7 linked regions of the Homo sapiens genome follow. The protein of the gene in region 2 purifies or fractionates together with the protein of the main gene of each other region. This does not show direct contact. Each region holds a gene or a part of one and is shown on either strand. Other genes may lie near its edges.

Region 1 (2,443 bases), on a different chromosome or scaffold from region 2:
CAATGAACTGGAATAAAGATTCCAGTCTCCAGCCCCTGGGGGAAGGCAGGAGCAGAATTTGACATTCCCTTCCCCAACAATAACACGGCTAAAACTCCCGCGGGAAGCGTTTCAGGCGGAGAGAGAGCCGGTCACTCCATCCCCACGGGATTACCCTCCCTACCACAACCCACGAATGTAGCTGACCGAAATCCCGGCCGGGTTTTCCGAAGGGCCCTCGATTCCCGCCCCCTCGGCAGGGGGCGGGGCAGGAAGCAGCCACATCCGGTTCCAGATTCGGCTCTCAGAGGCTTCCGGCGCCGAGACCGAGATCCCCGTCGGCTCGGTGTATCCTCGCTGGTGGAGTACCCTCTGCTTGAGCGCATCTCATGCGCCAGTAGTGGCGCCCGCCCCGAACGGTGTCGACGGGGCGTTCTCTGAGCGGTTCAGGGTCACTGGAAGGGACCAGAGGTGATTGGAATATTCATTGAGCTTGGAAAGGGGTTGGAATGAGAGAACCGTTTGGAAGCACTGGAATACAGCTTTATTCCTACACGATTAGACCCGTTACCCCGTGGGTCTGGCCGACCGTCCTGACTCGGAGATCCCTGAGCTGCGCCGCCGCTTCCTTCGTCAACATCCAGCAGCTACTTGATGAGCGCCCTCCAGTGGGCCTTAGGTCCCTATGCCGGCGCGGGGTTACAGCAGTGGACAGACAGGCCAGTCCCTGTCCTCGAGGAGCCCATGATCCGCGGGGAGACAGGCATTTAACGACGACTCACACGATCACTTAAATACAACTGTGGTGAACCGCACAAGAGGGACGCGCGGCGGTCTGCGGGGAATGACGAGGCCGACCTCGTCTGCGACCCAGGGAGGGCAAGGGTGGACCAGGCAAAGGGAACAGAGGACTGGGACCTGGAGGTGGGCGGGAGGCGTTTGGTTCATTGGAGGAAAGGAATAGCCCTGTGTGTGATGAGCATTGAGAGGAGGTCTGGCGAGCACCATCTAGGGCTGAAGAACTAGGCAGTGGCTCCAGCGCGGGGCGGTGGGGGGGACAAGTGAGCCAGGGCAAGAAGAATGGATTTGGCCCTAGAGTACGGGTTCTCCAAATGTAACCTCGGCCCTACAGATCTCTGAGACTATGTCAGGGGGTTTGTGAGATTTTATAACAAAATTAAGATGTTAGTACAATATCGTGTTTCGCCGCCGGGCGCGGTGGCTCACGCCTGTAATCCCAGCACTTTGGGAGGCCGAGGCGGGCAGATCACAAGGTCAGGAGATCGAGACCATCCTGGCTAACACGGTGAAACCCCGTCTCTACTAAAAACACAAAAAGTTAGCCGGGCGTGGTGGCGGGCCCCTGTAGTCCCAGCTACTCGGGAAGCTGAGGCAGGAGAATGGCGTGAACCCGGGAGGCGGAGCGTGCCGTGAGCCGAGATCGTGCCACTGCACTCCAGCCTGGGCAACAGAGCGAGACTCTGTCTCAGAAAAAAAGAAAGATTATTTGCAGCCGGGCGCGGTGGCTCACGCGGGTAATCCCAATACTTTGGGAGGCCGAGGCGGGCGGATCACCAGGTTAGGAGATCGAGACCATCCTGGCTAACACGGTGAAACCCCGTCTCTACTAAAAAATACAAAATATTAGCCAGGCATGGTGGAGGACGCCTGTAGTCCGAGCTACTTGGGAGGCTGAGGCAGGAGAATGGCGTGAACCCGAGAGGCGGAGCTTGCAGTGAGCCGAGATCGCGCCACTGCACTCCAGCCTGGGCGACAGAGCGAGACTCCGTCTCAAAAAAAAAAAAAAAAAAGTTTTTTGCCTTCTTCATTCTATAAGTGTACAGTGGAGTTTTTCAGAAGCTACATGATATGTATTGACACCATGGTTCCCACGATGAATAGAATGTGTGCCTATGTATTCTCGTGTTTTAAATTTTTCTCACTTTTAAGTTCTAGTACCATAAATATTGATAGCTATAACCCACATACCCAAAAGCTTTTTGGGGTCCTTGATGATTTTTAAGAGGTCCTGAGAGAAAAAAATTTTGAGAACCACTGTCCTAGAGCTCCAAGAAGGTGAATGCCATAAGATGTGTGTTTTTTAAAAAAGCATTTCTCGGGCCTGGTGTGGTGGCTCACGCCTGTAATCCCAGCACTTTGGGAGGCTGAGGTGGGCAGATCACCTGAGGTCAGGAATTCAAGACCAGCCTGGCCAACATGGTGAAACCCCGTCTCTACTAAAAATACAAAAATTCACTGGGTGTGGTGGCATGTGCCTGTAATCCCAGCTACTCCGGAGGCTGAAGCCACAGAATTGCTTGAACCCAGGAGGCGGAGGTTGCAGTAAGCCAAGATCATGCCACTGCACTGCAGCCTGGGCGGAAGAGTGAGACTCCGTCTCAAAAAAAAAAAAAAAAGAAAAATTATCCCTTATATAAGTGAAAGAAAAAAAAAAAAGCATTCC
Region 2 (4,120 bases):
AATGGCACCGATAAAATGGAGGATAATAATATCTCCGTCATTCATAGACTTGCTATGAAGACTATATGAAATAATATATATTTTATGTATATATATGTAATAGTCCTGGATCCACGTCTGGCATCCAGGAGGTTCCCAGAAATATCAGTTCTCACCTCTTTTCTGATGAATTCATACTGCACAAAAGCCTGTTACATTATCTGAAAAAGTCATCACTGTCATCCATGACACCTCTAGATGGAGATAAACCCCTCAAGAAAGCATAGAAAGGGTTAATAACCCTCTCTAGATAATGCAGATAGAAAAACACCGTCATTTTTGCTAAAGCACCCCAAATCCTACCTTGACATTGCAATCAACAAGCCTTATCCACCTTCCGAATTTCAGGACTTGCGTTGGGCTTGTTGCTGTAGATGATAGACGCTATTAGGAAAGAAATCATGTTGATGAAACAAATATTTTCTTCCCTCCCCAGGAGGATCAGGAGAATTTATTTAAGGAATGAAAAATATAATTAAATATTCTATAACCTACCTCCCCAAAATATGGACAAAATTATTTATTTCCCCCCACCTGTGGGGTGGAATGGGGGGGCATTGTAGATGATTCCCAAACAGCCAGGTGCTAAGGAGATTATACTCTTCAGAACAGACAATATTCAGTATGATTTCAGTACTGCAAAAGAGATGCAATGATCACGGTAGATATCATTTTCTGTGGGGCATGTCAGTTGGCCTTTGTCATTGTCTCTACACATATGTAGCCAACTACACAGTAACACCTTGTTTCTATTGCACTCATATTTTGATTGTCAGAATGGCTGATATGTACGTAAACTTCTTCATGAAAAATTTAAACTCTGGAGCCCAGATATCTTTTTTCATTACCGTGTATGTGAGGTCGCAATTGTCTGCAAACTGGGGAGCTCAGAGGTTACTCAGTGCGCCGCATTTCCTCACCCCCCGCCCCCCAAATCATCTTAGCTCAACCATATATGAGCGTCCCTCGGTTAGCCTGCCTAAAAGGTATGAGGTAAGGGGCATATGCACTTAGTGGCTCAGCAATCAGAGGCTTCCTTGGATGGGACTTATACTGGTAATATTAATGAAGAAGCTGCGCGGTACTGGCAGTGATTCCAGACCAAATCTTTTAACTGCCGAATGTCACTCGCTGAATTATGAGTTGGGGAGCTCTGTTGCTTAAAATACAGGGTTCTCAAACACAATGCAAGTGTTTGTCACCTCAAGTCGCATACTACCCAACAGGAAGCAAAAGGCAAAGGGCATGGCGCAGAAAAGAAACAGACACACAGACACGTTTTGCAATGACGAACTTTATGTGACATCAGGAACGGCAACCTGTTCTCATGTTTAGCAATTCCGAGGAACGCTGTAAAGACTGCTTGTCAGGTAAAACTGAGTACAGGAATAAGAGGCAGCGCTGGAGACTTTTTCGCAATCCTTTTCAAAATATAGAACAGTAACCAAATGACTTAGATAAGCTAATTAATTATTTAAAAAAAGGTTCACTGGATGCCTTTATCCTCTCCTCTTAAGCTTACGTGATCACCAGCAGCGCTGTTCAAATTCAGCTAACAGCTGTTAGACCAAACACAGATCCGCAGTGTGTTATCTCCCCAGAGTTACGGATGTTCGCTGAGACCCGCCAGAAAAATTAGGGTCGCTTTTCAATGAGAACATAATAAAGGATCCTTGGTTCCCCCTCTGCACACACTGTCCCAAACCTTGCGCCCCCTCCCACTTGCCTGCTGTCGGATTTCTTAAAATTGTAGTCGGTCCTGCAACTCAGTTGCATCTTCCGCAGCCCGACCCTCTACTCAGCGACATTGCGTTCAGTTTCCCTCCTTTCTCTCCTCCCACTCCTCACTTCTTGAGACCCCACCCCCGCCTTCCGTTTCTGTCTCGGCTTCCCCCGCGCCAGGTTCTCTAGACCCCCGCCTCCGCCCAGCGTCTTCATCTCGAGCCCCCGCTCCCAATCCCCTTAGAGACTTCTATGCTCCTTCCGTGGAACCTAAGCTCCTCTCTTCTTCCAGAGACTCAGTCTCCTCGCGATTTGCGCGTTCAGAGTCCCTCCCCCCAACCTCCGCTAGGGCCAGTGCGGTCCTGCAGGCTGCAGCCATCCGGGACCTGTCCCCGCTCCCCACCCCATCCCCCGCCTAAATCGTTGGGGTCTCGGCTAGCAATGCCGCCCGGGGCTCCAACTTACCACTAGCGTCCGGGAGGAAGACCAGGCAGCGGTCGCCGCGGCGGCAGCTAGACGAGAAACGGACTCGGCTGCAATCGCCCAGCGGAGCCCGCGGCAGTCGGTGCGCTGAGCTGCGCTGCGCTGCGCGCCGCAACCTCGCGCCTCGGCGGAGGGAGAGGAATGGAGGGAGCTCGGCGCGATAGGAAGCGCCGGCGAGTCGACCTCCTTTGGGTGACCGTGCGCCCCCCGGCTAGGTTTGGCTCTTTTCGCTCCGCTATCTTACTCTAGCTTAGTAACTGACCACCTCCAGCATCTCTGCACTAATCGCGTCTTCTTTCTTCTTCGTTGGCCCCTAACTAACTACACTACTCTAAACGGACGAAGGCCATCACACGAGCGCCACGACGATCGCGACGACTCCGACGACAACGATGTACAGACAGAAGAAGAGTTCATATGCAATCGGCAGGTAAGGGGCAAGGCAGGCCAATGGAGCAGCCAAGGCTAGCAATCTAGCCGCTCCAAAGGCAGTATCGGGAAGATCGGTGCATCTGAGGAAGGAAGCGTCCTCGGCAAGCACCAGAGCGCCTACCTCGCGCGGGTGAATCTGCACCACGCTCTTGGGCCAAAAGCGGGATGAGGGGAGGAGCCAAGAGCAGCCAATCAGCACTCAGCATTACGTGGCCCCCGGGCCTGTTTGGACCGGTCTCTTAGTGCATCTGGAGCCTGCTGGCAGGGGGCGCGAGACCCCATGGTGGAGATGGGGGTGGGGGTGATGATTAATCTGATTCACAAGGCCTAGAGAGTAGGGGGAACCAGGATCAGCCATGGCACCGGATAGAGAGAGAGGGAAGGCTTTCTCAAGAATGTACCCTCAAAGATTCATAGCATACCCCTCCCCAAACACACACACACACACACACACACACCCCTGTACATTTCATTTCAACAAACAGCATTCTCAAGTCTTGCAAATTTCATCAAGCTTTGAAACTCCCTTCAAGGGTCTCTGTTCCGACTCTTGCCCATTCCTCCAACAGTAGCAACTGAGGCACTCACAGGGTCAAACATTTGGTGAGTGCGCAAAGGCCACAATCCTGTTATAAGGCCCACTTCCCCATCCTTGTCTCCCCATCCTTTCCCTAACCCCAAAGGAGAAAGAAAAGCTCTTGGCCTTCGAGCCCCGGGAAGGCACAGTTTAGTTCCTTTCTTGACCCCACAGGCCTCATTAGAAAGACACCTTGAGGGCAGCTCTTACGGGTTTCCAAGGGGGTGAACATATCTCTCTGGCACAGGGCCTTGGGCCCACAGCCAGTCGGTTGCCCAGTCGTTGTGGGGGAGGGAGGGGTGCTGTCAATGCAAGGTCAAGGCAGCAAGAGGTGAACCACAAAGGCTCTCTTTTGGCAACTGCTGGGATGCCGAGCTGCAACCGGTCAGGCAGAGCTCTAACCGGTCAGGCAGAGCTCTTTTTCACAGGCTCCCAGGCGCAACCGGGCAGGTGCCTGCGGTGTCCTGGCGGCAGCGCAGAGAAGGGTGAACGGGGCCCCCTTGGCTCAGAGGCACCAAAACCAAGCTGAGTAATGGAGATGATCCCACGGAGAATGGGGACAGAAGCAGATCTCTCCTAAGAGGGAACGAAGGGGCGAGCGGGGGTGGTGGTCTCGGGTCGCGGCCGAGGTTTCTCGGCCCTGTACCGAGGACCGGGGTGGGAAAAGTGGAGATTGGCTCCCCGCCTGTCGGAGGTAGCTGGACCGAAGCAAAAGATCGAGCCTCCGGTTTGGCTACTTAGGACCGGACGGCAGCGCAGCGAGTGTATAGAAGAGGCTACAGAGAGGCCGTACAGAGAGAGGCTTGGAGGACCTAACCCGGCAGAACGCAAAAGGGGTGGGAGCTGCCGGCTATTCTGAAGGCCGAA
Region 3 (3,500 bases), on a different chromosome or scaffold from region 2:
CCTTTTTTTTTTTTTTTTTTTCAGTAGAAACAGGGTTTTGCTATGTTGCTCAGGCTGGTCTCAAACTCCTGGCCTCAAGTGATCCAGTGCTGAGATTACAGGTGTGAGTCACTGTGCCCTGCAGGATTTTTTTCTTCTTTTTTTTGAGATAGGATCTCACTCTGTCACCTAGGCTGGAGTAGGATCTTGGCCCACTGCAGCCTCCATATCCCAGGCTCAAGTGATCCTCCCACCTCAATCTTTCAAGTAGCTGGGACTGAGGTGTGTGCCACCATGCCTGGCTAATTTCATTTATTTTTTGTAGAGACAGGATCTTACTATGTTACCCAGCCTGGTCTCAAACTCCTGGGCCAAGCGATCCTCCCACCTTGGCCTCCCAAAGTGTTGGGATTACACGTGTGAGCAACCATGCCTGGCAAGGGATTTTTTTTTAAAGAAACATTTTAGGATTTTTTTTTCTTTTTTTTTTAAATTTTATTATTATTATACTTTAAGTTTTAGGGTACATGTGCACAACGTGCAGGTTTGTTACATATGTATACATGTGCCATGTTGGTGTGCTGCACCCATTAACTCGTCATTTACATTAGGTATATCTCCTAATGCTATTCCTCCCCCTCCCCCCACCCCACAACAGTCCCCGGTGTGTGATGTTCCCCTTCCTGTGTCCATGTGTTCTCGTTGTTCAATTCCCACCTATGAGTGAGAACATGCGGTGTTTGGTTTTTTGTCCTTGCGACAGTTTGCTGAGGATGATGGTTTCCAGCTTCATCCATGTCCCTACAAAGGACATGAACTCATCATTTTTTATGGCTACAAGGATTTTTTTTTCAATGGGTAATAACCCAGAATGAACATTAACAAGTAAAAGTACAGTTGAGCAATGTGAGCCAGTTATTTCCCCAGCAGTAGTGTGGTGTTCTGTATCAGAGAACACAGGGATTATGCATCCTGAGGGCCCAAGCTGCAGCAAACCTCCCATACCTTTTCCATGTCGTCCCAGTTGGTGATGATGCCATGTTCTATCGGGTACTTCAGGGTCAGGATTCCTCTTTTGCTCTGTGCTTCGTCACCCACGTAGCTGTCTTTTTGTCCCATTCCCACCATCACCCCCTAAAAAGGTTCAACACATTATGAGTCAGCATCTCCCAAAACTTGTGAATCAATTACAGCCAAGCCACAAAAGGTTAAGTCATTGAGATGGGAAGTTCCTCTTCTGATTATCAGCAACAATAAACATATTGAGTCTCATTGCCACTATGCTCTTAAGCAAAATTCTGCAGTTGATTGGAAAAAGACCTGAATTGCCTCCAAATAACAGGAGATGTTGGGGGAAAGTCAACTTTACTTTGTATTTTTATCTCCTATGTTCCTTGATGAGCTTTTTTAGGGCAGAGATCATGTCTGTCTTGTCCATCACTATAGCAAATTGCATGGCACATATGTGGCACTCAATAATTATTTGTTGAAAGAATGTATACAATTTTACATATTTGTTAAATGGCATTTTGTGTCTTATAAATCCTTTAAACTGTACTTTTAAAGTCATCACCTACCCAAAAGAATATGAGCATTATTTTCTAACTATTATAAGCAAAAGCATTGCATCTACAAATAACCACTTGAGGCTTGATTTCTAATGGATAAGTTCATACCAATCAACTGTTAAGACATTTGCCTAAATTAGTCAGCTGCATTTAAAAAAAATCATTAAGGTGAAGTTCTTAAAAAATTATTGTTACTAGATTTTAAATTGCACTGCAGTGACTATTTTAGAACTACAAAACAGCCATGGCTACTATGGACCCATAAAATAGCGGCTTGTGCAGAATATCTCCACTGCATAAAGATCAATGAATTCAGACAGACTGCATTCATTGGGAGAGGTTTCTATTATTTATTCTCATGAATATATCCCAAGCAGAGAGGCATAAACATCAATCAGATAGCCTCAATGCACAAACTACATTTCTGATGTGAAGAAGAATTTCTGAGGTGAAATTACTGAGTTTTTACCATGTGATGCCACCAATACTTTGTTTACACATAATGTGTAAAATTACCATGCGGCTGTCCAAATATATTTTGTTGACAGGTAATATTATGTAAAATTGCATTTGGTATCGATGCTTGCTTTCATCTAACATCAGCCCTGTATGGTTAAGTGACCTGGACTTTTATTTTAGTTTCTTTCCAAACAGTAGCTTTGGTATACATCAGGATAATGTATAAGCATTTCTGATGGTGATGAAATGATTTGATGATGATGATGATGATGATAATGACTATATTTAGACAAAAAGGACATGAAAAAGGGGCAGACTTTGTATCTGATAGATGCCCATCAGATAATCTGTCTACATTATATGTGAAATTGGCATTTACTCCTGGACCTTAATCATTAGAGGTCTATTTGTAACAAGGTTACATAACTTCTGGGCAGAAAGAGATAGACAATCTGGGGATAAACATGAACACAGAGGAACCTAATCTGTGTCCTGTTATGTTCCAATCATAATTTTCCTCACCTGATGTCTGGGACGTCCCACAATGGATGGGAAAACAGCCCTGGGAGCATCGTCCCCAGCAAAGCCGGCCTTACAGAGCCCAGAGCCATTGTCACACACCAAGGCAGTGCTGTCCTCTTCTTCACACATAGCTGGAGCTGCTTCACAGGATTCTATAGAAAACAGGGAGGAAGCAGCCTCAGCTGTAATTGGGCATTTGTGGCACTTACCTGACAACTCCCACCTCCAAGGCTGGGTTTGGGGGCCCTCCTCTGTGTCCTAGTGCTATCCTCTGACCCTTATCTAATATAGCATGTATCTGGAAGTACTTTAGTTACACTATAAGCTTTCAGTAAGCTGAAACTCTGACTTCTGAAACTCTGACTTCTATGTTGATACAACCTTAGTGTAGTGACCGGCATATCATGTGTTCTCGTGAGCACTTTAAAGGTGGATAGAGCCAGTGAATGAATAAACAAACTGCAGAGCACAGATGGGAAATCCAGAGTCTGAGACCAGATCTTTGCAGAGACAAGTTGCCTACCTTATGTTAAAGAAGCATCTAGATTTTCCTGTCTGTATCAACCCAAATGCACATTTTTCTAGATATGCTATACCTTTTTGAAATTTTTTCAAAAAGCTAGATTTTTGAGGGACAGGCAGCATGTAAAAATTTAGAAATGTTAAAATGGTCAAGTGTTTAATGGAAAAATCTTTTTGAATCATGAGGACTTTTACTTTACCCTCAGAGAAGCTTTGAAATAAAATTTTCTGAGAAGGTGCTTTAAATTTTAGGGGCTGCAATTATCCACCGTTAATAAAAGTCACTGTTAAGCTAACAGTCCAACAAGTGAGGGTGAGCCTGATGGATTATATATCATATGGTAGAATACTTTACTGCCATTAAAAAGGTAGAGTAAGAGGATAAGCAAAAGGTAGTTCTTATGTAAGAGTAATAGGTTAGAAAAAGTAACATTGTAAATCTCATTAAAA
Region 4 (3,500 bases), on a different chromosome or scaffold from region 2:
TGGTAACAGGTAAAATATTGGGCCAAGCCTGATGGCTATTATAAAACAGAATTCTAGAAAGTTGCTATGGGTAGGTCATAAATTTAGCTTTAAGTTTTCTAATGGTCAATGTGAAATAAAAAATTTGATCAGTTAGATAAAATCATCATGTCTGTAAGAAAATAAAAATTAATTCCTCAAAGGAAGCATAATTATCATTTATTGTTACTGAATTATTAACAAGATTACAATGAAATTTCTTCAAAGATTTCATAAAGAAAATGCAAAGGCAATTAACAGTGTCATCAACAACATCCTTTCAAGAGAAATATGTTTCAGAGGGCTGTTTCTTATTGTTCCTTCCTTAGTACAGATGGCAGGCATCACGAAACAAAGAGCCATTCAGTAAAAGCTACCCTACAGGGAGTGAATACCATTTAGACTAGATACATTGACAGCTTTTTGCTCCTCTAGGTTAACAACTACTTTAGAACATTTAGAGAAAGAAACAAGCTGGACATCCTCCAGGCAATACTACATAGTATTTCAGCTAAGCTTCTGAAAGATTTTGGGAAGCAGTGGGTTTGAAATAACAAGTGCAACTTTAATTGGCAGTATGGACTGCCTATTAAAAGTGAACCACATGTTTTAACTAGTCTTTTGAGCTGAGAGTAAAGTGATATTCTCTTGAAAAAACTAAGCATCCCAACAAGATTACATATTTGAATAGGAAGTCATATGATCTCTGCTCAAAGGTGAGTCAAAGGAATATTCTGGCCAAGATTCTCTTTTCAAAACGATTCTGAGTCCAGTCAATGGACAGTTATACATCATCAAGGTTCATATTTGTGTTCCATAATTGGGTGAAACATTAGCATGAAAAAACAGGTATAACTGAAGATATGTCTCAGACCCAATCCTCTATATAGCACACAAAGAAAAACCAGATTTTAGCAATGCTACTTCTTATCCTCTTTAACTAATTAAGAAATTTAGGAAACATACACCATAGTATGACAGATGTTTCTTACTATACGGGTTATTAACTATAAGTTAAAAGTTGGGGGACATCATCTACCAAAAACAGTAAATATAGCTTTAGAATATCTGAATCCTCTGTATCAATATTTAGATGAGTAGCTGGCAAACTATGGCCTCACAGCCACCTGCTTTTACAAATTAAGTTTATTGGAGCATGGCCATGCTCGTTTGTTTATATATTGCCTATGACTGTTTTCTCTCTACAACAGCAGAGCTGAGTACTTGTGATAGAAACCTTCTGGTCCACAGAAACCTAAAATATTTATTATCTGGCCCTTTACAGAAGAAAGCCTGCCAACCCCTGCTTAAATAGCAGTGAAAGATGCAGGTTGTGATAATAAAATTTAATAACCATTATGTAAAATAATACCTGTCTATTCTCTATAGTCACAGGATCTATATCTAGCTCATCCAAGAAAAGGTTTGGATTATTTTTTATTTATTTATTTTTTTGAGATGGAGTCTTGCTCTGTCGCCCAGGCTGGAGTGCAGTGGCACAATCTCGGCTCACTGCAAGCTCTGCCTCCTGGGTTCAGGCCATTCTCCTGCCTCAGCCCCCCAAGTAGCTGGGACTACAGGCGCCCACCACCACGCCCAGCTAATTTTTTGTATTTTTAGTAGAGACGGGGTTTCACCATGTTAGCCAGGATGGTCTTGATCTCCTGACCTCGTGATCCGCCTGCCTTGGCCTCCCAAAGTGCTGGGATTACAGGCGTGAGCCACCGTGCCCGGCCAAGGTTTGGATTATTAAAGTTTAAAAGCAGGAGAATCAGAAAACACTTCTATTTTACCATAATACATGTTATTCATTGTTCTATCAAGAGACCATTATTATCAACTCTGATTCTCTCTCTCTCACTCTTTTTTTTAAGAGATGGGGTCTCATTGTCTTGTCCAGTGATCACAGCTCACTGCATATCCTCAAACTCCTGGGCTCAAGGGATCCTCCTGCTTCAGCCTCCAGGGTAGCTGGCACTACAGACGTGTACTACCACACTCTGCTAATTTTTTTTATTTTTTTGTAGAGACAGGGTCTCACTTTGTTGCCCAGGCTCGTCTTGAACCCCTGCACTTAAGTGATCCTCCTGCCTCAGCCTCCCAAAGTGCTAGGATTATAGGCGTGAGCCACTATGTCTGGCCCCTCTCTCTTCTTTTTTTTTTTTTAACCTTTCAATGTTTTGTGATTAACCATCTGTATAGTAAGTTTTTCTTTTTAATTTAAATTTCGTTTTCAACTCTGATTATCAAAGGATTTGAGAGTATAGTCTCTCTACAAGTCTCAAGTGCCAGGGGTCTATAATGAACTTACCTTGGCACTGAATCCTAACTTTAGAGTGAAAGACTGCTTTACTCCTAAAAGGTTTTTCCAGGTGGTGATAAAAAAGCACAACAAAGTCTGCATAGCATAGTTGATGAACCCTACATATAAATGCTGGCCTAAAAACATACTCAAGCTTGCAGATTAACAAGCAAGAAATATTTTGAATAGACTGTCTAATAAACTAACAAGTCTATTATTTGGAGGGGAGTAAAGAGTTATTTTTAAAAAGTGTTTTAAGAAACACTTTAAATTCAACCAAACTTGACCATGACTGTAAAATCAATAAAAATAACTAAGTTAAGTAAGAACTGGAGTTTCAGTCTTCAGAGAGATCATTAAAGTAGCTCTGAGGAATTCTAATCTTTTCAGGTAGAGATTTTCAATCAGCAGAACAATGTGAAGGGCTGTTACTGGGATTCAGTCAGCGAGCAGTCCTGGAAAAATAAAGCTTCTAGGAGTGAAGCCTAGACTGCAGCTTCACAGCCTCACTCCAATGAGTTCTTCAGAGTTAACGGTCAGATCTTTTGTTTCCTGGTATCTCATAATCTTTATCAAACCAGCTATTAGGTGGCTGTGACCCATATCTGTTGTGATCATTGCAGTTACTGAAACTGAACTATTAACACAGTGTTTTTTTTTTCAGTTATGAGATCCAATAGCTTTTCCACTGTAAAGAATGTAGCACAGAACTCTTCAAGAGGAGTTTTCAGTACTCTTACTCACCTGCTATTCAATACTCCTAAGATTTCAAAGATGATGAGCTCAAACATGGTGCAAGAAAATGCAAACGTCACGGAGAAGATCACCTGTACAACATACTGACGTATCTGTTAAAAGCCAAACAGAGACTAGAAGTTATTTCCTTGTTTAAAAACTGAACTGATAACCTCCTTCTGGTTACAAGTCAGAAAACTTATTTTGAGGAAATTCTCAAGTCATTGGAAGTAGGGCCACAACAGCAACTTGCCTGGAGCTAAAGAAAAAGATCAATATAGGTGGCACTTCTGAATCTTGAGTCACTATTACCAGCATCCTCCTGTGGATGAAGAATTTTGAGGACAAGAAGATGAAGTGACAGGGTCATAGGTAGCACTTAGAATTCCTGATGCATACTGACAAAAAACTGACAGATTCGTACATAATGGTTAATGTTTAAAGG
Region 5 (3,500 bases), on a different chromosome or scaffold from region 2:
ACAGGAATCATGTATTTATAGTTGCCATGGGGTACAGAGTCAAAACGAGGTATGCAAGCAGCTCCTGGGCTTATAATTTTCTTTTTTGTTAAAATTGTTTGCATCCAGTTATATCAGGCCAGTCAAGGCTGTATCATAAATATCATAAAGGCCTCATTAAGGTATTTGGATAATTCTCAGCCAAGCACGGTGGCTCATGCCTGTAGTCCCAGCACTTTGGGAGGCCGAGGCGGGAGGATCACCTCAGGTCAGGAGTTGGAGACCAGCCTGGCCAACATGATGAAACCGCTCTACTAAAATACAAAACTTTAACTGGGCGTGGTGGTGGAGATGCCTGTAATCCCAGCTACTCGGGAGGCTGAGGCAGGAGAATCGCTTGAACCCAGGAGGTGGGGATTGCAGTGATCTGAGGTTGTGCCATTGCACTCCAGCCTGGGCAACAAGAGCAAAACTCCATCTCAAAATAATAATAATAATAATTGAGTACTATTCTATTATTTTCTTCCCAGTTACAAGCATTTAAGTTTGATTAATATATGTATGTAGTACAGAATTCAAAAGTTATTAGAGGACAGAAACTGGAAAGCCTCCCTCCTTTCTCCGACACCCAGTTCCTCTCCCAGAGTCAAGTTACTGTTGCACCAGTTACTTGTGTATCCTTCCAGAGAGATTCTCCATGTATAAGAGAGCGTGTGTATGCGGGCATGCGTGCGTGTGTGTAAGGCAAATGGTAGAATACCATCCACACAATTCTACACCTTGCCATCATCTAACATGTATCTTTCTTCAAACACCTTTGCATGGTAGGAGCTGATTCTCTTAAGTTACAGGTCTCTGATACGGATTAATTTCATATGCACACAAAGATCTATAGCGATACAAGAGTTAAATTAAATATTCTTTTAAATGACCTAGCTGTAGGTTTCACTTGGAGGGAAAAACAAAAAAAACAAAAACTAGCTGTACAAAGTCCAATGCATGTTCTTCTAACAGATTTTCATAGTTCCTCATAGTAAAATCTTACTTAATTTGACCACATTAAACTATAGGAGCTCAAACCAAACAAAAACAAGAGAGACTGAGAGAGAAGAACAAGTGGTGTTTTCTATACTGAAGGAAAACTCTCCACATTACTCCACCCAGTATCCATTGCTGGAGCGAGGGTAGCCTGGGAGGTGGGAATCTGCCCCTCTCTCTCAGCTGCTGAGGTTCCAGGTGTCTTTCAGGATTTTTTGAGGGTAAACGTGAAGATATTTGCTTTCTACACTGGCAAATAAGATAATTCCATTGTGTTATATTCAGTGTATTCTTCATATATTTTATCCTCCTTTTCAGACACAACATTAAGTCCAAGAATTGAACTCTTAAAAGATCAGGCCAGGCGCGGTGGCTCACACCTGTAATCCCAGCACTTTGGGAGGCCGAGGCGGGTGGATCACCTGAGGTTGGGAGTTCGAGACCAGCCTGGCCAACATAGCGAAACCCTGTCTCTACTAAAAATACAAAAATTAGCCAGGCGTGGTGGCAGGCACCTGTAATCCCAGCTACTCGGGAGGCTGAGGCAGGAGAATCGCTTGAACCCGGGAGGCGGAGGTTGTGGTGAGCCAAGATCGCGCCATTGCACTCCAGCCTGGGCAACAAGAGTGAAACTCCGTTTCAAAAAAAATCAAAAGAGAGTCACTTTTAACTAAATACAAGTTTTTGTGTCAACATCCATTCAAGTGTTGGTCCCCAGTTCTTTAGACATCTGTTTTACATTCCGTCAAGTTCCTAAGAGGTGCTGTGTGTTTAATGGTACATGTTTTTTAAGTTCTAAATTAATCTTTAAAAATTAAGTAATTAAATATTCAGAAACCCATATGTGGTTACTGAGCTGTCTCTGCCACCCTTTCAACATTGATCAGTTAACAGGTGTACCTTTCAAGTACTCCCTGGCTGTGCATTCATTGGCTGGAATGATCCCATGAAAGCTGTGCCCAGCCATGCCCAGGACAGGATATAGTCAGGATATGGGCAGTGCTAGTCCCATTCCCATTCCAGGGCAGGACGGGACAAGCACTGGAGTACAGAGGCAGCTCGTCAGTGTGAGCAGACCAGATGATGGCTGTAGCTTTGTATTTGTCTCCTAGCCTCCTAAACCTGGAAGAGATCTGGATGGTAAACGGGGAGGGGACTTTCCCCAACTTTTGCAAGCATTCTGGCTCCCATCAGCCCAGCAAGATGTCCTGTGGGGTGGGAGTGAGAGGGCTGCTGTTGCTCATGCCCACCCCCACCCATTCCCCTGAGTAGAGGCAGGGGGCAGAGCCAGGCAGGGAGTCCACAGCCAGGGTCCCAGGTGAGCAGGACCCCAAGTCTCTCACTGCTTCCAAGCCCTACCTAAGCTCTAGGTAACCCTGGCAGCCCTGGTTCCACAAGCTGCCATCTCTCAGCTCTGGGCCATTTCTCACTGAGAGTCTGGTCCAGGTACCCCCGGTCCCATCCCCAGGCAGCACACAGAGGTTATTTCACTTGAAACAAACTCCCTGTGTGCCTGTGCTATAGTGAAAGCACTCAGATATGTTTCTCTTGGTTCTGCTGGTTATTTGTGGTCACTGAGGCCAGCACATTTATTAACTGCAAAGATCACAGGAAAACTGCCCCAAGCTGAGTCCTGGAGAAATAATGGAAAGTTTCTGAATTGTGGGAAAATATAACTAAGCACTTTGATTTTAAATAAATTCCCATTTCATGTCTATTCTTGACATCATCTTTTTTTTTTTAAGGTTCAGGAATGTGACATGCTGCTAGGTTAAGAATGCTTTTGTGTATCCTGAGGGTCTTGATGATATTTATGTAGAAATCGCCTACCACACGTTACTGTCACAACAGTAATTTTGAAAATGTATTCACCTAATGACATGTGCTCAGTTACTTCCAGGGATTGGTAGTCTGAATTGGCCTTGCCTATGTAATGGGTTTGGATGGTTACTGCTGGGGGAAGAGGGCCATTACAATACCTCTGGGCTGTCCAGCTTGCTTGGGGCCCATACTCGTATCCCATCTGTGGCCTTCGTATCACCTAATATTGGCATTCGGAGAAATGGAGAATCAAAATGACTTGAAAAGTAGTGTCATTGTTATTTATTTTGGAGTAACAGAATGTTTTCTTATCAGAATGAATTTGATAAAGGATAATCGCTTATATTTGGAGATGATATTCTTTTTTTTTCTTTTATTTGAGATGGAGTCTTACTCTGTTGCCCAGGCTGGAGTACAGTAGCACGATCTTGGCTCACTGCAATTTCTGCCCCCCAAGTTCAAGCAATTCTCCTGTCTCAGCCTCCCAAGTAGCTGGGATTACAGGTGCCTGCCAATGCGCCCAGCTAATTTTTGTATTTTTATAGAGACGGGTTTCACCATGTTGGTCAGGCTGGTCTTGAACTCCTGACCTTGTGATCCACCCGCCTCGACCTCCCAAAGTGCTGGGATTACAGGCATGAGCCACCGTGCCCGTCCTAGAG
Region 6 (3,500 bases), on a different chromosome or scaffold from region 2:
AAAAGGTGTGGCAAAATATGGCAGGATTGCAGAGGAATATTGAAAGCATGGTTAAGATTAATGATGACTTTTTAATGGCAACATACTATTTGTGATTTTCTCCAGTAGTACTTAGAAGCCAAAAGACTAAAACTACTAATCACTTCCTCCAGACATACAAACTAACCTCCATCCACACTCATCCTTTGCTCTCCCCTCCTACTGAAATGGTAGTTGGATGTATCCAAGTTTAAATTATGCCAGGAGCACGCCCCAAGACACAGTGGTACAAGGGAATTTAGGATAAGGGTAAGAATGTTTGACATGATAGACCATGCAACCTGTGTTATTACATTTTTCTCTTTTGGCCTACCTGATAAAAAGCAACCTGTATTATCAAAGACTGATTTATGGACAATAAAGTGATGCATGCTATTTATCTAGACATGCTGTTGAAGAACAGGTGTAATGAAAGTAAACTGGAAAGACTTAGAGCGATGCATAGGGTTTTGATTTTGGAGACGAACAATTACAAAGAACATAGCTATAGGAATGGGTATCTGAAATAGAAGTGTGACTACTTTCTACTTTTTCAATTCTTTTAGTTTTATGATATACTGCTTCCCTTCCACAAATACTGATTGACCCTGTTCTAGAATCTAAGGGATACAGGAGTGCACAAAGCAGAAAAAGTCCTTTCTCTAATGAAGCTTACATTTTAGCAATGGTTTTGAAATGGTCCAATCCTAATTTTGAATTTCTTTCATGCTGTTTTAAAACTTTGGGGTTTTTTTGTTTGTTTGTTTGTCTATTTGAGATGGAGTCTCGCTCTGTCGCCCAGGCTAGCATGCAGTGGCGCGATCTCAGCTCACTGCCAGCTCCGCCTCCCGGGTTCATGCCATTCTCCTGCCTCAGCCTCCCTACAGGCACCCACCATCACACCCGGCTAATTTTTTTTTTTTTTTTTTGTATTTTTAGTAGAGACAGGGTTTCACCGTGTTAGCCAGGATGGTCTCAATCTCCTGACCTCGTGATCCGCCCACCTCGGCCTCCCAAAGTGCTGGGATTACAGGTGTGAGCCACTGTGCTCGGCCAAAACTTTGTCTTTATAGCTCAAAATTTCCACAATACTTTGACATGTATTGTTATTTGATCCACTGAGAAGTGAGGATTACTGCCATATCAAAAATGAAGAAATTCAGACCAAGAGAAGTTAAGTTCAATAAAACAAATGTTTACTGGCTATCTATGTGCCAGCCATACACCCTGTTAAGCTGAGGATATAGTGATGAATATGGGCCACTGTCAGCTGTTCATAGATAAGTAGTGAAGACAAATAATTGCAAGACTGGTAAATGTTATAAAAAGGTGTTTGACAGTCCCATCGGGGGTGAGATGGGAGGCAGTAACAGATCATCAGACATTAGATTCTCATAAGAAGTACACAACACAGATCCCTCGCATGGGCAGTTCATAACAGGGTTCACACTCGCATGAGAATCTAATGCTGTCGCTAATTAGACGGAGCTCAGGAGGTAATGTTAGCGATGGGGAGTGGCTGCAAATACAGATAAAACTTCACTCAGTTGCCCACCACTCACCTCCTGCTGTGCGGCCCAGTTCCTAACAGGCCACAGGGACGCCTGTTCTAAAAGATACCTGAGCCTTGACTAGCAGTTGGCAATAGATACAGGGAGATCATTTCAGAGGCTGCTATAATGTAGTAATAGTTAACATTTATGAAGTGTTCTGCTACACACTGGCTAAACACTCTATAGGAATTGTCTTCTTTAATGTGCCTAACAGCACTTCAAGGTAAATAGAGCTGGTCATGGACTTACTGTAGTTTCGCTTAAGCTTTTTGGCTTTACAATGGTTCAAAAGCAACACATATTCAGTAGAAACTTTACCCATACAAACATTCTGTTTTTCACCTTCAGTACAGTATTCAACGAATTACATGAGATATTCAACACTTGTAGGCCTTATGTTAGATGATTTTGCCCTATTGTACGCTAATAAATTAAGTGTTCTGAGCACCTTTAAGGTAGGCTAGGCTAAACTACCATGTTTGGTAGGTTAGGTGTATTAAATTTATTTCCAACTTCTATTTCCTTTTCTAAGAGACAGGGTTTCACTCTTTTGTCCAGGCTGGAATACAGTGGAGTGATCATAGCTCACTGCAGCCTCGAACTCCTGAGCTCAAGCAATCCTCCCACTTCAACCTCCCCAGTAGCTGGGACTACAAGCACATACCACCACACACTGCTAATTTAAAAAAAAACTTTTTTTTTTAAGACACAGGGGTTTCATTATGTTGCCCAGGCTGGTCTCGAACTCTGGGCCTCATATGATCCCTCCCACCTCAGCCTCCCATGTAGCTACATTTACAGGCATGAGCCACTGTGCCTGGCTCTCAATTTATGGTACTTTCAATTTATGATGGGTTTATCAGGATATAACCCCACCCTAAGTTGAGAAGCATCTATATATAATTATGATCCCCATTTTTCGGATGTAGAAAAATGAGGTACACAAGTTATAGCTTGCCTAAATTCACCCAGCTCATAAGTGGTCGTCTTAATCCAGAGCCCTTGTTCTTTTTTCTTTTTGAGACAGAGTCTTGTTCTTGTCTCCCATGCTGGAGTGCAATGGCACAATCTCGGCTCACTGCAACCTCTGCCTCCTGGGTTCAAGTGATTCTCCTGCCTCAGCCTCCCAAATAGCTGGGATTACAGACACCCGCCACTACACCGAGCTAATTGTTTGTATTTTTAGTAGAGACGGGGTTTCACCAGGTTGGCCAGGCTGGTCTCAAACTCCTGATCTCAGGTGATCCAGCCACCTCGGCCTCCCAAAGTGCTGGGATTACGGGCGTGAGCCACCATGCCCTGCCGAGCCCTTGTTCTTTTTTTTGGAGACGGAGTCTCACTCTATTGCCAGGCTGGAGTGCAGTGGTGCAATCTTGGTTCACTGCAACCTCCACCTCTGGGGTTCAAGTGCTTCTCCTGCCTCAGCCTCCCAAGTAGGTGGGACTTCAGGCATGTGCTACCACACCCGGCTAATTTTTGTATTTTTAGTAGAGATGGGGTTTCACCATGTTGGCCAGGCTAGTCTCGAGCTCCTGACCTCAGGTGATCCACCCACCTCGACCTCCCAAAGTGCTGGGATTGCAGGCGTGAGCCACCATGCCCTGCCGAGCCCTTGTTCTTAACATTACTATATCAGGCCTCTCCCAGCAGTCTAGATGAGATGATGGTCATTTAGACAACAGTAGTGGGAATGAGAAATAAAAAAAGTGTCTAAGGTACACCTGTCTGATTTAGTGACTGACAGGAAGTCTGGTGGCAAAAGAAAGGGAGAAGTTAATAATGACAGCTAGATTTGAACAAATGGAGAATTTTGGTGAAATACCAGGTTTGAATGGAAAAGATAATGAATTAGTTTTGTTCTGAACAAAAGACATCTCAGAGATATCTAGAAAGAAGAAAAAAAAGGATATATCAGCTTAAAGGACAGAA
Region 7 (3,500 bases), on a different chromosome or scaffold from region 2:
CGCGGTGGCTCAAGCCTGTAATCCCAGCACTTTGGGAGGCTGAGGCAGGCGGATCATGAGGTCAGGAGATCAAGACCATCCTGGCTAACCCCGTCTCTACTAAAAATACAAAAAATTAGCCAGGCGTGGTGGTGGGCGCCTGTGGTCCCAGATACTCGGGAGGCTGAGGCAGGAGAATGGGGTGAACCCAGGAGGCAGACCTTGCAGTGAGCTGAGACCGCGCCACTCCACTCCAGCTTGGGTGACAGAGCGAGACTCCATCTCAAAAAAAAAAAAAAAAAGTTCCCGAAGTGATTCTAATGTGTAGCCAGGGTTAAGAATCACTATGCCAAGGAAATCTAAGCCCTCCGTGTTATCATTGCATACAGAGCTTTTGTCCTTAATTGTCTGAAGAAATATTCATTTTATTCAGCCAATTTGCAAACCAAGAGAGTAAAACAAATAACTACTAAAAGGGGTATTAATTATAAGTACGCTTAGCTAAACATGTTAAGCAGAAATCAAGGCAAAAGTATTCCATTAATAATGTTTTAGATAACAGGTACGTTCAATTAACATGTCAAATATGCCAATAAACGAACTATTTCCATTTTTCAAACCGCAGACTTTACAAGCTGTGAAATGGTGCTATGCTTTCTGGTGTATTCAAGAGCCCACTAATTCCAAAACAGCCATGCTGAAACGACTGTCAACCTTAAAAATTGAAAGTCCCAAATGTGTTGCAGAAAACACACAAAAAAAAACCTCAATAAAGATTAGTTAAACTGGGCCGGGCACAGTGGCTCACAGCTGTAATCCCAGCACTTTGGGAGGCCGAGGTGGGCAGATCCCTTGAGGTCAGGAGTTGGAAACCAGCCTGGCCAACATGGTGAAACTCTGTCTCTACTAAAAATACAAAAATTAGCCGGGCGTAGTGGCAGGCACCTGTAATACCAGCTACTTGGGAGGCCGAGGTGGGAGAACTGCTTGAATCTGGGAGGTGGAGGTTGCAGTGAGCCAAGATCTTGCTATTGCACTGGAGCCTGGGCAACAGAGCGAGACTTCATGCCAAAACAAACAAAAAAAAAATTACTTAAACTGAACTTTAAGGTTGTGTAACTGCCAGAGCAAACCTTTTCATGCTTTCATGCACATGCTATCTCTGAAAATACTGTCAGAAGTCTGAAATTCAAACGCATGCCTACATTTTTGTATTTGGCTACTTAACTGTTTCACAGGAAAACTAAATAAACTAAGCCTCAAAAACAAGTATTAAAATATGCTGCTGTGGCCAGGGAACAGTGGCTCACGCCTGTAATCCCAGGACTTTGGGACGCCGAGGCAGGTGGATCAATTGAGGTCAGAAGTTCGAGACCAGCCTGGCCAACATGGTGAAACCCCATCTCTACTAAAAATACAAAAATAAGCCAGGCATGGTGGCTCGCGCCAGTTTTCCTAGCTACTCAGGAGGCTGAGGCACGAGAATCGTTTGAACACGGGAAGCAGAGGTTGCAGTGAGCCGAGATCACGCCACTGCACTTCAGCCTGGGTGACAGAGCAAGGCTCCATCTCAAAAAATAAAAATACTTATATATGCTGTTGTGTTTCCCCAAAACTGTACTACGGGGGTCCTCATCTTTTACTTAAAATCCTTAAGAACAAATGTGCTTCAGAATTTTTCAGATTTGCCCCGTCCGGGAAGGAGGTGGGGGGGTCAGCCCCCCGCCCGGCCAGCCGCCCCGTCCGGGAGGTGAGGGGCACCTCTGCCCGGCCGCCCCTACTGGGAAGTGAGGAGCCCCTCTGCCCGGCCAGCCGCCCCGTCCGGGAGGGAGGTGGGGGGTCAGCCCCCCGCCCGGCCAGCCGCCCCGTCCGGGAGGGAGGTGGGGGGGTCAGCCCCCCGCCCGGCCAGCCGCCCCGTCCGGGAGGTGAGGGGCGCCTCTGCCCGGCCGCCCCTACTGGCAAGTGAGGAGCCCCTCTGCCCGGCCAGCCGCCCCGTCCGGGAGGGAGGTGGGGGGTCAGCCCCCTGCCCGGCCAGCCGCCCTGTCCGGGAGGGAGGTGGGGGGTTCAGCCCCCCGCCCGGCCAGCCGCCCCGTCCGGGAGGGAGGTGGGGGTGTGAGCCCCCCGCCCGGCCAGCCGCCCCGTCCGGGAGGGAGGTGGGGGGGTCAGCCCCCCGCCCGGCCAGCCGCCCGGTCCGGGAGGTGAGGGGCGCCTCTCCTCAGCCGCCCCTACTGGGACGTGAGGAGCCCCTCTGCCCGGCCACCACCCCGTCTGGGAGGTGTACCCAACAGCTCATTGAGAACGGGCCATGATGACAATGGCGGTTTTGTGGAATAGAAAGAGGGGAAAGGCAGGGAAAGGATTGGGAAATCGGATGGTTGCCATGTCTGTGTAGAAAGAGGTAGACACGGGAGACTTTTCATTTTGTTCTGTACTAGGAAAAATTCTTCTGCCTTGGGATCCTGTTGATCGGTGACCCTACCCCCAACCCTGTGCTCTCTGAAACATGTGCTGTGTCCACTCAGGGTTAAATGGATTAAGGGCGGTGCAAGATGTGCTTTGTTAAACAGATGCTTGAAGGCAGCATGCTCGTTAAGAGTCATCACCACTCCCTAATCTCAAGTACCCAGGGACACAAACACTGCGGAAGGCCGCAGGGTCCTCTGCCTAGGAAAACCAGAGACCTCTGTTCACTTGTTTATCTGCTGACCCTCCCTCCACTATTGTCCTATGACCCTGCCAAATCCCCCTCTGTGAGAAACACCCAAGAATGATCAATTAAAAAAAAAAAAAAAATCAAAAAAAAAAAAAAAGAATTTTTCAGATTTTAGAAAAGTAACACAGCGTTTACACTCAAACAGACCCTATGGGGTCTAAAGTGCACCAATAACCAAACAAATTAATATTCCAAGACAGAACATAACTATTTATTAAGTGAGATAAAGATTATTCAGTAGCCTCCTGTCAGTACAAGTCGGCAAATTATTTTGCAGCAAACTTCTGAAAAAAGTTCCTTATTCAGAGCTTTGAATGAGGCAGTAATTCAAGATTTCTCTTTCATATTCAAGATACTGCAACTGGGCTGCAGAAAAAAAGTCACTATGATGAAAACATCCTTTTACTACAACTGTAATTCCACAGAAACAACTCAAGTTATTAGGGTAAATCCAAGAAAAAAGTCCAAGTGGTGCCCAACAATTTTCATAATGATTAGAATAGCATTTAAGTATTCACCTTAATTTTCATAACACAATTTTGAGCAAGAGCAAACAAATACATCAAAATATGCATATGGACTAAGGCAAGCCTGAAGCAGAGAGCCGGATGTAAAACGGGCAAACTGACACCCATAATAGTTCACCTAACTTTCTATCTAGCAGTATGGAAACCACACAGGGCTCTGAAGCTAAGCGACCAATGTTCTAATCCCAGTTCAACCATACAGGAAAATTACTTACATGCTCTACCCTCAGTTTCTTTACCTGTAAATGGAGATAATAATAGAACCTACCTCACTGCATTGC

The links.
Region 1: the proteins of HTR2C (region 2) and TAPBP purify together in Homo sapiens (affinity purification with mass spectrometry; 2 studies listed by BioGRID and IntAct, with this or other methods). This does not show direct contact.
Region 3: the proteins of HTR2C (region 2) and ACTA2 purify together in Homo sapiens (affinity purification with mass spectrometry; 2 studies listed by BioGRID and IntAct, with this or other methods). This does not show direct contact.
Region 4: the proteins of HTR2C (region 2) and GPR89A purify together in Homo sapiens (affinity purification with mass spectrometry, with the first as the bait; 2 studies listed by BioGRID). This does not show direct contact.
Region 5: the proteins of HTR2C (region 2) and HEATR3 purify together in Homo sapiens (co-immunoprecipitation; 3 studies listed by BioGRID and IntAct, with this or other methods). This does not show direct contact.
Region 6: the proteins of HTR2C (region 2) and PTRH2 purify together in Homo sapiens (co-immunoprecipitation; 3 studies listed by BioGRID and IntAct, with this or other methods). This does not show direct contact.
Region 7: the proteins of HTR2C (region 2) and SEC63 purify together in Homo sapiens (co-immunoprecipitation; 3 studies listed by BioGRID and IntAct, with this or other methods). This does not show direct contact.

Annotation. Positions count from the first base shown.
Region 1 is NC_000006.12:33,299,194-33,301,636, forward strand, and holds the end of TAPBP (tapasin isoform 1 precursor), read right to left. Parts: 3' UTR 501-2,443; downstream 1-500. UniProt on the Homo sapiens protein: Involved in the association of MHC class I with transporter associated with antigen processing (TAP) and in the assembly of MHC class I with peptide (peptide loading).
Region 2 is NC_000023.11:114,582,766-114,586,885, reverse strand, and holds the start of HTR2C (5-hydroxytryptamine receptor 2C isoform a precursor), read right to left. Parts: upstream 2,801-4,120; 5' UTR 2,227-2,800; intron 1-2,226. UniProt on the Homo sapiens protein: G-protein coupled receptor for 5-hydroxytryptamine (serotonin).
Region 3 is NC_000010.11:88,946,274-88,949,773, forward strand, and holds part of ACTA2 (actin, aortic smooth muscle), read right to left. Parts: intron 2,681-3,500; 5' UTR 2,658-2,680; coding exon 2,529-2,657; intron 1,114-2,528; coding exon 985-1,113; intron 1-984. UniProt on the Homo sapiens protein: Actins are highly conserved proteins that are involved in various types of cell motility and are ubiquitously expressed in all eukaryotic cells.
Region 4 is NC_000001.11:145,617,988-145,621,487, reverse strand, and holds part of GPR89A (Golgi pH regulator A), read right to left. Parts: intron 3,169-3,500; coding exon 3,065-3,168; intron 1-3,064. UniProt on the Homo sapiens protein: Voltage-gated channel that enables the transfer of anions such as iodide, chloride, bromide and fluoride which may function in counter-ion conductance and participates in Golgi acidification.
Region 5 is NC_000016.10:50,086,470-50,089,969, forward strand, and holds part of HEATR3 (HEAT repeat-containing protein 3), read left to right. Parts: intron 1-3,500. UniProt on the Homo sapiens protein: Plays a role in ribosome biogenesis and in nuclear import of the 60S ribosomal protein L5/large ribosomal subunit protein uL18 (RPL5). Required for proper erythrocyte maturation.
Region 6 is NC_000017.11:59,700,931-59,704,430, forward strand, and holds part of PTRH2 (peptidyl-tRNA hydrolase 2, mitochondrial isoform b precursor), read right to left. Parts: intron 1-3,500. UniProt on the Homo sapiens protein: Peptidyl-tRNA hydrolase which releases tRNAs from the ribosome during protein synthesis. Promotes caspase-independent apoptosis by regulating the function of two transcriptional regulators, AES and TLE1.
Region 7 is NC_000006.12:107,951,709-107,955,208, forward strand, and holds part of SEC63 (translocation protein SEC63 homolog), read right to left. Parts: intron 1-3,500. UniProt on the Homo sapiens protein: Mediates cotranslational and post-translational transport of certain precursor polypeptides across endoplasmic reticulum (ER). Proposed to play an auxiliary role in recognition of precursors with short and apolar signal peptides.